Linked DNA regions of Homo sapiens. The protein of the gene in region 1 interacts with the protein of each later gene in a pairwise test. Each region holds a gene or a part of one and is shown in the gene's direction. Other genes may lie near its edges.

Evidence for each region. The genes of interacting proteins can lie anywhere in the genome.
Region 2: the proteins of FOXP1 (region 1) and SOX5 come close enough for resonance energy transfer, tested with the Homo sapiens proteins (one study listed by BioGRID).

The regions. Positions count from the first base shown.
Region 1 is NC_000003.12:71,580,694-71,587,692, reverse strand, and holds the start of FOXP1 (forkhead box protein P1), read left to right. Parts: upstream 1-3,964; 5' UTR 3,965-4,122; intron 4,123-5,995; 5' UTR 5,996-6,144; intron 6,145-6,999. UniProt on the Homo sapiens protein: Transcriptional repressor. Can act with CTBP1 to synergistically repress transcription but CTPBP1 is not essential. Plays an important role in the specification and differentiation of lung epithelium.
Region 2 is NC_000012.12:23,528,992-23,533,693, reverse strand, and holds the end of SOX5 (transcription factor SOX-5), read left to right. Parts: 3' UTR 1-4,190; downstream 4,191-4,702.

The DNA.
Region 1 (6,999 bases):
CAAATGAAATCCCTGGGCCTTAGATTCCTCATCTGTAATGCGATATTCTTAGTTATGCCCATGTTTTTTAAAGTGTAGGAACCTTGGCACTAGGATGGCATAACACTGAATCACACATTGAGAACTGTATTCCTTTCCGATCACTTTAAATCCTTCTGGTTGTTAAAAAAAAAAAAAAAAAAAAAACAGAAAAAAAGAGAGAGAAAAAACAAAAATTCAAAAATTTCCATTGATACTCTTGTCCTTAACCCTTCTCAACATTTGCCACTCTCCCTCCTTTTTTCAAAAATCATTTTTAATTTTTGTTTTGACCCTCAAAGAGAAATCAGTGACTTTGTTTTTACTGTGCTTGTTTTTAATTTATGGTGGGTGATACTGATTTCCCATTTAAGGCAGTAATAGAAAAAAATTAAAAGAAGGTTGATTTAAATGAAAATGTTTGCTACAATTACCATAATAAGTGGCCTCCAATGAGTATGGTATATTAATTATTCGGGAACTGTTATGTCATATAGATATGGCAAAAATCAGGACACCAGTAACTGTGGTTAAAGAAACACTAAATTAAGTGGTTTTAGTTTTTGTTCAACTCAAAACTTACAAGAGCATTCAGGTACGTCGTCAGGTGGTAAATGTCCACTCCAGTTTCTGTTCCCCAAATGTACATATATTTAGTGACATGGTATTTGGTGAATGAAGCTCATGTTTGGTGTATACAATCAACAGTAATGTGACAGGGGACTAACATATTCTGATACGTTTGGGAAAATTTTGGCTGCAGTTAACTATAATTTGCTAATTTTGCATTTACATTGGTTTTTTTTTTCTCCTGTTACTTAAAATATAACGAAATGGGGACAAGCACCTTTGCCTTGGTGTAATTAAAAATAAAATTATGTCAGGAACATCTGTTTTCAGAAGGGATTTCTATTTGTTTTATCACCAAAAGGTGGCGTCCTACCCCCATGCCCTTTATTTTAAAACCTTTCTTGCTTTAATTTAACAAAAAGAAACTTCCAGTTGATTACTGATAAAGAAATTAAAATCTGCCCCCCACGAATGTAACGTGACAGTGTTGAAAATGAACAATATGTTAAGCTGCAGTTAAGTTTCCCTCTAATGTAAACCAAATGGACATCGAGTTCTTTAATAAGGCAGCACAGCACATTAGACAGTATCATACAAAATTGAGTACAATATATCATGGGATTTACAACCAGGATTTCCTTTTGTCTGCAAAACTTGTTGCCAACCTGACTGTGGCCCCCACTTGCAAGTGAATGTAGAATTTAAGGCAGTTAAAATGCAGAATCAGATTAGCAGCAATCTAAAGATCTTTTTAGTATTGCGATGATAATAATTTTTAATAAACACACTGCTTAATCTGAAAAACAAGATCAGAGGATGAATTGTTCTTTACAGACTATGAATAGATCTGTTACATTTAAATAAGTCGTTATTCCCCTGAGTTATAATTCTACAGTCAGGCATATACCATAAACATGTTATATTTGGCATAAAGTACTTTAGAAATTAAAAACCATTTTTAATAGGTTGACCACTACAGAACCAGTAGACTGGCTACTTTGTAGATTTCCACTTAATTCCGTGTGAATTCAGCATATGGAATTTCCAGTGATGTCAAAGAGTTGTTGGCAGTATTAACTGAGTTGACATAAAGCTTTTAGTTCAGTGCCTAGATCATAGTATTTAATAAATGTTAGATGTTATTATTGACAGCTTAGACTGTGAGCTCCTCAAGGGCAGGAATTTTTATTTTTTCATCCCTCTGTGCCCACTCTGTGGTCTAGCACACAGTGGGTATGTCATTAATCCCTTTATGTCTTGACAAACAAGACGTCGAACCCTAGCCTCTAGGAAGCTAGGACATTCCATACAAACTAAAATGCATTTTATTGGTCTAGATTCTAGTCTAAAAGATTCAGTGAATAGTCTTATCTGGATAGCATGGAACTTTATGCAGCATGCATGCAATGTGAATTCTACCAGGCTGAAATTACCTTAGCAGCCTCCCTTTCTTTTATTCTGTAGCATCAGCGAATGGCTTTGTTATTTTTTTTTTTTAACTTGCGAAAGATACAATTTCAAAGCGATAGTCTTATGCCACCCTTGAAATTAAGATTTAAGTTCTTCTGTAAATTAATGTTTAACAATATTTGTAAAGGGGCATTACGCGAAAGAATTTAATAATAACCTTTTCAGGATATTATCTACAACTGTGCTGGTCTCAAGACCAAAGGGACAGTAAGCCTCTCCCCTCCCCGCAAGGGGAAGTACTTTGTAGGAATCCACAGGGGTGACTTTTAATATATTCTCATAAAGAATTGGCCTGGTGTACACCAGCCAGCCAGTAGCTGGAAATGCTGGTTTGGGAGTCTGGCCACTTCTGTGGTGGTGGGTCTGAAAAAATTTACTTCTGTTAACAACAACAACAACAACAACAACAAGACATAGAGGTCTTACAGCTTTCCAAGTCACGTTTTGGAAACACATACTCTGCTTCCTTCTCTATGCGTATTGATAAAAGTGAAAGAAATACTAGTGTCTTTTGTTTTATGTATGTATATTTCAAAACATTTAATTCAGGCTCTTAGTTTATTCCTTCGAATTTCTAAATTCAACCAAACTTCAAAAACCGCAAAAAGAAAAAAAAAAATCTCACCTTTTCAAAGAATTGGACAAAGCTTTTTGCACGTGACTGATCACTGGGAGAGCAGGTAATTTGTGTTAAACAACGGACTGACATGCTAGCCCCCAGGCGTTTTCCTAAGAGGAGTCGTGGCAAGAACACAGTTCCTGATGCAGCCACCTTCCCCCAAAGTGGACTCGATTGCACATTCCTGCAGTGGCTCTGACAAGGGGGCAGAAGCTCGTCCCACATTCACACTCTCCTGATTCCGAGAAACAGGGGAGAAAACCCCTCGCTGGCTGGCGGGGTTTCTGTTTCCTTGCAAACAGGGGTTTGTCCTTCTGCTGAACTTTCACCTCCCGAACTCGCCTTCTTTCATTGGACAAAGTGCAGAAAGAAAGAGGAGAGACCGAGGGAGGACGGGAGAGAGGGAGAAAGGGGGTTGAAAACACCACCTCCCACCCCGCTCTCCTTCAACTGTCACTGATGGCAAAACACTTTCACTTTTAACTGGAGGAAACTCACATTCTAGCCTGTCCTCTCCCCTCCCTTTCATATTTTTAGCTCAGAATCCAAGCAAATAGCCATCGCATTCCCATCTTCGTCCCTAGTTAACACTCTCCCTTCTCGTTTTTTCCGCTGTCTGAATGGGCCCCCCATTTCCCATCTCCTGAGGAATCTCCCCCTCCGCCCCCCTGCCCCTTATTTTCCAGGTCTTTCCTGCCAGATCCCTCTGTTGCCAGGGACTGCTCTGGCGTTCCCTTCCTCTCTCTGGTCCGCGGGGCTCTGCCTCCCTCTCCTCTTTCCAATCCTGCCTGGACGCCCCTCACTTCCCCCTCCCTGGATCCCTCCCCCCAACCCCCCCCCCCATTCTTTGGCAATTGCGATTTTTTTTTTCTGGGAGCCCGGTTGTTTACCCAGCAGGTGGATGTGACGTCAGGGACGCACAACAGCAAAAAATAACAACATCTCCCTCCGCGACGTGTTGGCCTCTCTCGCGCGCCTTATTTATTTATTTGTTCCGGGATGTCGGGGGGGAGGGGGGAGGGAGGAGGGGGGTGGGCGCCAGCGCCCCGGCGAACGGCAAAGAGGGAGCCGCTCCCGCTCGGGGGGCCGCTGGAGTGCCCAGCGGGGTGCGTGAAGCGGAGAGGGGACCCCTGCGGGAGGTAGAGGGTCGGGCCGGGGTGCGCCCCCGGGCCGGTGCTGCCCGCGCCTCTGCCGCCGCCGCCGCCGCCACCGGCGCTGGCTGGGCTCCGGGAAGCTAGTCCGGAGCGGAGGAATCTATTGTTATTTATTGTGTGGCGGTTGCACGCTGTACTCGCGGCGGCCCGGCCCTCGCCCGGGAGTGCGTGTGTGCGCGCGTGTGTGCGCGAGTGAGTGTGTGCGCGGGGTGCGCGCGCGGGCGGGAGTGGGCGCGCGCGGGGAAAGGCCCGAAAACACCTTAGTTTGCACCGAGAGACCATTTGCAGCGGGTGAGTTTGTATTTTTCCATTTCTGCTCCACTTTTTCCCAAGCCGCCTCCTGTCTTGTTTCCGCCACTTTAAACAACAACAACAACCAGCACAAAAAAAAAAAAAGAAAGAAAGAAAAAGAGAAAAAAAATGGAAAAAAAAAAACAACTACTTTCCACCTCCAGGCTCCACGTGCATCTCCCCCAGCCCTCCCCTCTCTTCCTCTCCCCCCCGGGTCGAGGCCCAGCTCTGGGATGGGTGGGGGCTGCGGGCCGGCGCGCGGGTGGAGGGAGCTCCGGCGGCGCCCGCACCCTTTGGGTTTATTTGCATAAGTCAAATGGGGGCGGGGGCGGTGGCGACTGTGAGGAGGCGAGATCGCCTGCCCGTAGGCCCCTTCACGCCTCTCTCTGCGCTCTCCACGATCGCCTAGGGGAGAGAAATCAATAAGCCCAGGCCGCCTGGCGCAACTTTCGATGTCCGGCGTTGGCGTCCGGTGGCCGCCCGGGCGCGGGGCCGGTGCGGGGTCCCGGGTCCTGGCCGCGGCGGGAGGGGGCGCGCGCCGGGCGCCTCCTAGGCCCAAAGTTTAGACTTGGAGCAAACTTTTCCCCTTCTTTCCCCGCGGGTGTGTGCCCCCTCGGTGCCCTTGAGCTGCCCCGCGGGCCCCAGCAAACTGACTGTGGTGCCTGGCCCTGGGCCCCGCACTGGGGAACTTCCCCGCTGCCACGCGCGCGTTACCCCGAGAGTCAGCGGCGAGGAAGCTCTCCCGCCACCCCCTCGGAGCCCGGAAAATTCAAACACGCACCTGCGCACCCCCAGCCAGACACGCACCCCTACGCGCGCTCGGCCTCCGCTTTCCCGAGACGAGTCCGCAACAGCCGTGGCCAGATCCACGGGTGGGTGCGGGAGCCGGATGCGCTGCGAGGAGTCGCCGCGCCCGGATCTCTCTCCCACCATCACACACATTTTCTGATTTTACCCCCCTCTGAAGCTTGGGGGACGGGGAGATTTCCCAAGCTCCGATTTGTCCTGCGTCGCGCGCGTGTCGCCTCGTCCCTCCGGCCCTGTCCTGGCGGCCGATGGCTCTCCGTCCCTCGCTTGCGCGCAGCCTTCCTCCCGAGCTCCCTGCGCTCTATTCCTGTCCCGCCGAGACGACTCCCTGGAGCCAGCGAGCCGAGGCGGCGTGCGCTTCGAGTGGGGACCACGGCGGTGGCGGCGGCGCCGGGAGCCGAGGAGTTTGCCAGTTGCCGCGGGGTCGCGGTCATTTGCTGCCTCCGCCTTCCCTCGCCCCCGCCTCCCGCCTCCCTCCTTTTCAGACAACGTCGCGCTCGGAAACTTAGATTCCTTCTTCTTTTTGGCCCTCGACGAGCCCCCCTCCCCACCTGTTGTGAGCTCCGCCTTGGTCCCGGGAGACTGGCAGTGACACACACGGGCTCTGGGGAGCTCCGCTCCCGGAAACAAAGTCGCATGCCCCCCTCCCATGTGTTTGCTTCGAAATCGCTGCCTGCAGCCCCCCATTCCCGCGCAGCTCCCGCCCCCTGTGAGAATAAGGACTAAATAAACAGTTGTAACTCCAAACCTTGCGCCCGTGATCGTATCCCCATCCCACCCCCTTCTCCCTATTCCTCCCCCCTCCTTTTTGTTGTTGCAACTTTGTGAGATCCTGGGGAAGGTGCTGAGACTTTGGCTCGGGCCGATTTCCCGGTCTCTGGATCCTTGCAGGGATTCCCTGAGCCGCATCCTCTCTTCCCTCCACGCGCACTCGCGGGTCCTCGGAGCCCGCTGCCCTCTCTGTCCTGGCCCCTCGGCCTACTCACCCGTCCCGTCCCCTTCAGTTCCCCCCAGCCTGCACGGGGAAGACTTGCTGAGGGTCGCCCCGGTTTCTTGTCGACTGCAGAACCCGAAAGTTTGTAAGAGGAAGAGAGCGCGCGGCGAGCGAGCGAGCGGGCCGGGGGCAGCGGCAGCGGCGCCGGGGACCATGGTGCTGCCGGCGCCTCCTCCGCGGGCGTGAAGGCGGCGCTCCTACTCCCTCCCCGGACTCCGCGGGTAAGTCGAGGCGGCCGCGGGCGCGGGGTCCAGGGACACCGGAGAGCCCCAGGCGGCACTAGGGGTTCTCCGTCCCCAAAGAGCCAGCCGGGGTGGCGCGAGCCTAGCGATAAGGCACCGGGAGCGAGGAATGTGCCCATCCTCAGGCCGGTAGGTGCTTCGAAATACTGGACTTCCTCCCCTCCACCCTTTTCCCCTCTTTCTTTCCTAAATCTGAAAATCTGGAGATCAAAGTTTAGCGTGGAGTGTAAAGTGCTCCGATAAAATATGGTGACATCCTCGCCCCCCTTCTCACCCCACTCCCCTCTTATAACTATTAATTATTTCCAAGTCATTGTATCCAAATACCCTTGCTGGGCTGATTACAAAGTGTATTGATTTAGTCTGGGCTCATCCTATGCTTTCGTCTTAATTCATTTTCTTTTTGCTCTACCAGAAGACCCAAAATGAAACTTATTTCTTCCTCTTCCCTACCTCCCCACCCCACAAGCCCTCATCTGTGAGGCTTGGGCAGAATAATGAAATTAATATAAACATTTCATTTGGTTGCATTTGACCTTATGCAGTCCACTTCTGAGGGGCTGGAATTGCGCTCATGTCTGCTCACAGGTATTTTCCAAGTTAGCATTTTCTTTTTTGTCACTGCTCTTTAAACAGGAATGCCGGAGGAGCATTCTGGATTCCCTTTGAAAGGCATCTGTACATTCAAACCGTCTACACTTCACCATTGGTTGTACGTAGACTTAAGGGTTTAGGGCTTGGACAATAGCTGAGTTGAGAAGACCTCAAGGATATTTAAAGGAATTTTTCTGCTACTGAAAATATATTGAAGAATCGCTGCAAAATTTTTCCATT
Region 2 (4,702 bases), on another chromosome or scaffold:
AGAAAAATGAATTTCTCTTTACTTCTCTCCACCTTCTCCATCTCTCTACTTTAAAGATGGAAGTCTGTGCATGAGGGGAAAGAGGGAAAAAGAGCCTGTTTTTAACTTCCTTGCTATCCACCACAAAATAAGCAATTATTTTCTTTAGAGGACTTTATCTATTGCACACCACACTACATCTTTGAGCAAGTGCCAAATTTGTACTGAAGTGTTGACCAAGTTCATTTTTTCTCTTTACTTTTTCCTTTTCCTTCTTAAGTTAGGACAGTGTTAAATCTTAGACAATCCCTTGAAAAACCTGAAATACCAGCAGCTGGTGAGATTTGACTTTTTTTTTTAATGGAAACTGTAGGTGCTGTTCTCAGGTGAAAAGAGAGAGAGAGAGAGAGACATAAGAAATTTAGAGAAAAATATTTTCTGATCTTGGATTTTTGTGTGTATGTATGTATGTGATTATGGTACTAATAATAGGAATAACGTTGGACCATTGTGAGTTAAACCCACATCTGGGGATGAAATCCCACATCCTCCCAAGTGACTGGTCTAGAAATAATCTTGACCTTGACTTTGCACTTCAAATGACAACTTAACCAAGTATAGGGCTCAGAAATTATATTTTTAAATGTCTGATTATTATTGGATGGATCAGGTGGCCCTGTGTAATAGAGGTGTGCATGTATAACATGGAAGCTACTAGCAAACTGCTCCCAGATGTCCTTTCTCCCTGGTCAGTTGGTTCCATTAACGTTTGCTACTTAGTGATTTTTGTTTTTCCTGTTGATATTTTGAGCAAAACAATCATTGTTTTCATTGAATATATTTGGCCATTTTTTCAGACAAATAGAATTAGCTTATTTCTTCAACATTCCATCCTTTCCCGATCAGGAAATGAAACTGATGATTTTATAAGGTATTTTTCACCCCTCCATGAAGTGAGGTGGAGGCCTTTAGCATTTCAGAAGTGTGGGCCATATGTAGTTCATGCCATAAAAAGTAGGATTTAATTAAAAGTCATTGCAGCCCAATAAAATGGAGCCTGGCTGCACCCAGGGATCCTTGCCACTGCTCTTCCCTTGCTGTCAGATTAATCCACTGAAGTCCAACTTTGGTTCAAGCAGAGTATTTGCAAAGAGCAACAACTGAATGTGATGGGACTGCTTATGTAGATTTTGCCAGCCAAATGCCAAGGCAGTTGTAGGGCCTGTACAAATAAATGCAAAATCATTTCAAGTCAATTGCCATTATTTGTATTGAAGTATCAGATAGATAGTAAATACTGCAACTAGTAGCTTGATGTGCTATAGTTTTCACTCCAGTCATCATTTTCCTATCTCACCCCCCGAAACACCACCCTAAAGTTGGATTTTTACATATAAATAAAAAAAGAATCCCTTTTATTTTTCTCTCTCTCAGAAGACTTGCTCTGGGGTTTTGCTTGGAGGAGCTGATCATATCCTGCATGTCAGAGATTTCATTTTGTTTGTTTTTCTGTTTGTTTGTTTTTGATGACTTTATTTACATTTGAACTGCCTCTTTTTGCTAGTGTTGTAATGATGATGATGATAAAATAATAATAATAATAGTAATAATAATAATAATGGTCAGCTGTTCCCAGATTAGTAAGTTATGTATAATTTATTTTATTTCTCCCTTTCTATTTTATTCTGCTCTGATTTGGAAGTGCAGCCAATAAGCTGTTAGATATTTAAAACAAATTTCCATCTCCAACTCATATATGTATGTATATGTATATATATATATACATATATATACACACATATACACACACACACACACATTTACCCACAATTTTACTTCTCTTTCCGTAAGTTTTCTCTTTTTTAAGAATTTTGGCCCCAACAATATCAGTTCTGATGTTTAAAACAAAGGAGTGAATTAATAGGAGGGTCGTGTTCAATCTTAATTAACTTATGCTCTCATCACTCATTTTAGTTATTTAATTGCCACAGTCATCTAGAGCCAATTTTTTTTTGTTTTTGTTTGTTTTGTTTTTAAGCACTCTGGATAAGGAAAAAATAGACACTTGTTTTTATATCATTTTTATGTACAATGTGAAAACAGATTTTTAAAAAATTTGTTCTCTGTCTTTGTTAACAAATTCCTTCCGATTTATGTGGGTTCACCTCTCACGTTTGCTGGATACTTACTTTACACCATGTTATGAAAGATGCTTTGTTTTCATTTCATGAGTTTGGGCTACAAGAATACTTTGTTTTAGCTCCAGGTAGATGCCATTGAAGGCATTCATGGCTGAAATCAATTCTAACACACTTACCGATGAATTGACAACACTTTGGTGTTTGGTCTTTTTTTTGTTATATTTTGTTTTATTTGAAGGGGAAAACAAAATTGTTAATGGTGACTTTTAACTGCTGAAATTCAAAATTTGATTTTAGTTAGGTTTATGTCCGAGACTAAACTGTGCATGAACCGAAACAAAAAGCAAGTTCATACCGCTGCATTCTGTTCTCTTGTTCTGACGGTTAATTCACTGGACATCAAATTTTCTTTGCCCTAGTTTTCCCCAAAAGAAAACAAAAGCAAAAATAGTTATATTAATGTTGAAAGTGCTTTGAAGTCACTTGATAAAAGGTGCTATGAATAGCAACTTACTGTGTTACTACATTGCCTTTTTGGCATTGGTTGATTTATAATTTTGGTAAAGGATCCTAAAACCCTGTATTCTTTTTCTGTGCCCCATAATGACCAAAAAAGATAAAGAAAATGAGAGTAAGATCAAAAGATCAAACTAAAACATAAACAGTCTCCTTCCTGTCTGCTTTCTTACCTATCTGTTCACACTTTATCTCTTTCCCTTTCTCTCTCTCTCTCACATGCGCGCGCGCGCGCGCGCACACACACACACACACACACTTGCCCCAACACTGAGAAATAATCTTGCCAGAATTCTGGTTTTTATAGTTGTTGTAGTCCGTTTCTCTAAAAATAGTCCTGTTTTCATATGAATCTAAGAGAACATTACCGGAGAAAATAAAGTTACTCATTTATAGTTACTAATAATAAGTTAGTGATTAACTTACCACAATTGGATAAAATATAAAACTATTCTTCAGCACATTTATACCTAAATTAGTGAAGTCCATTTGTGAAGTTCATTTGGCATCTGCAGTTAAGAGTTAACCATGTATAAAATCCCTCCCAAAGAACATAATCATCGTTAGAACCAAATCCTCTTATAAAGAACAAATATAAAAAAGTTTTCTGTGGTGAAGCTATTTTATAGATTTGATTTCCGGAGTAGAATTTTACCTTAATTCACTTAAAGAAAATTAACCATTTTTTGGTCCAACTTCAGATATTTTCTTAATCCAGAAGCTGTGACTGTTCCCAGAAGAAACCTCTTATATCACATTTAAAACATAAAAAATAATTACACTTTCACTCATTCTAATGGGTAAATTGTTGAATTGTAATAAACAACTGTATATTTACAAACAGGTTTATAAGGTATTTGTCTATCAAATTAATAATAAAATAAAACTTACGGGGTCTGCAAGGAAAACTATGAAGGCCACTTAAAGTGGTTCAGGTATCCCTTTGTCTTGTAGGGCATAGCTGTTGGTTTAGCCAGGCTTTTACAGTATTTAATTTTAAAGTATCCTATAACTATCAACTTCCCAGGTTGAAGACGATGTGTTGAGTTTCCTACTGATTGATTGATTCCTGTCCTCCCCAGTGTTTCCGTCACTGGTTCACTAAAACAGTATTTATATAGCTCCACTGGCTCTAAAGCTCTTAGTCCTTCTAATATTTTGGATTTTACAAGTAAAAATGGAAAAAAAATAGAAAAGAGACAATCAAATGCCTGGAGCTTAAAACAAAGTATGTGCAACCTACCATCTCACTTGAAATTTAATAAAATAATAAGTAATTATGTAAATATAACATAGAGTTATAGATTTATATTTTGTTCATAACACATAGTGTAATATAAGTTGTATATTTTCATGTTTTTGGTTTTATGTTATCATTCATGCCACAATAAAAATAAAACAGGAGTTTATGTGCTCTTAAAAAAAAGATGTGGGTTGCCACCAACCTGTTTTTCGTTTTTGTTTTTTGTTTATTTTATTTTATTTTTTTGCATTCTCCTTTTTCAGTATTACTGCCATGCAAGGCACCAATAAAAACAGCAAATGTGTTCTTTACTTATTATACTGTGTTTCTTTTCACAATTATTGTTATGAGGGTGTAATTAGTTTTATTATGAAAAGAACAAAAGTATGGAAATTTAATTTTGTTTTTAATATAAATAATCCCTCTTATTGAAGTTGACTTTAAGAACTAAAGGTTTAATTTTTAGCTGTGGACATTCCCAGAAAGACAGTCAGGACTTGATATAATGCATTTCACTCAGACAGATCTAGCTTCACCATACTGTCAAAAGATACTGTTCTTATATGTAATTGATTCAACACAATTGAAAACCCAACAGTCTAAAGCACCTTTAATATTGTTGTTTTCCCTGGCTGGACACTATCCTTGGGTGGGGGATGGGGGGTTTCTATGCTTTAGAATTGTGCTTTATCCTTTCGTTTGTATAGAAGATTTATAAATTTCAGATCATGAAATTACTAAGAACTATGAATAATTTTCACCTCGCTGGTATCTCATTTTGAATAATGGATATTTCTGAATTGTTTAACATTAGCCTCTCAGT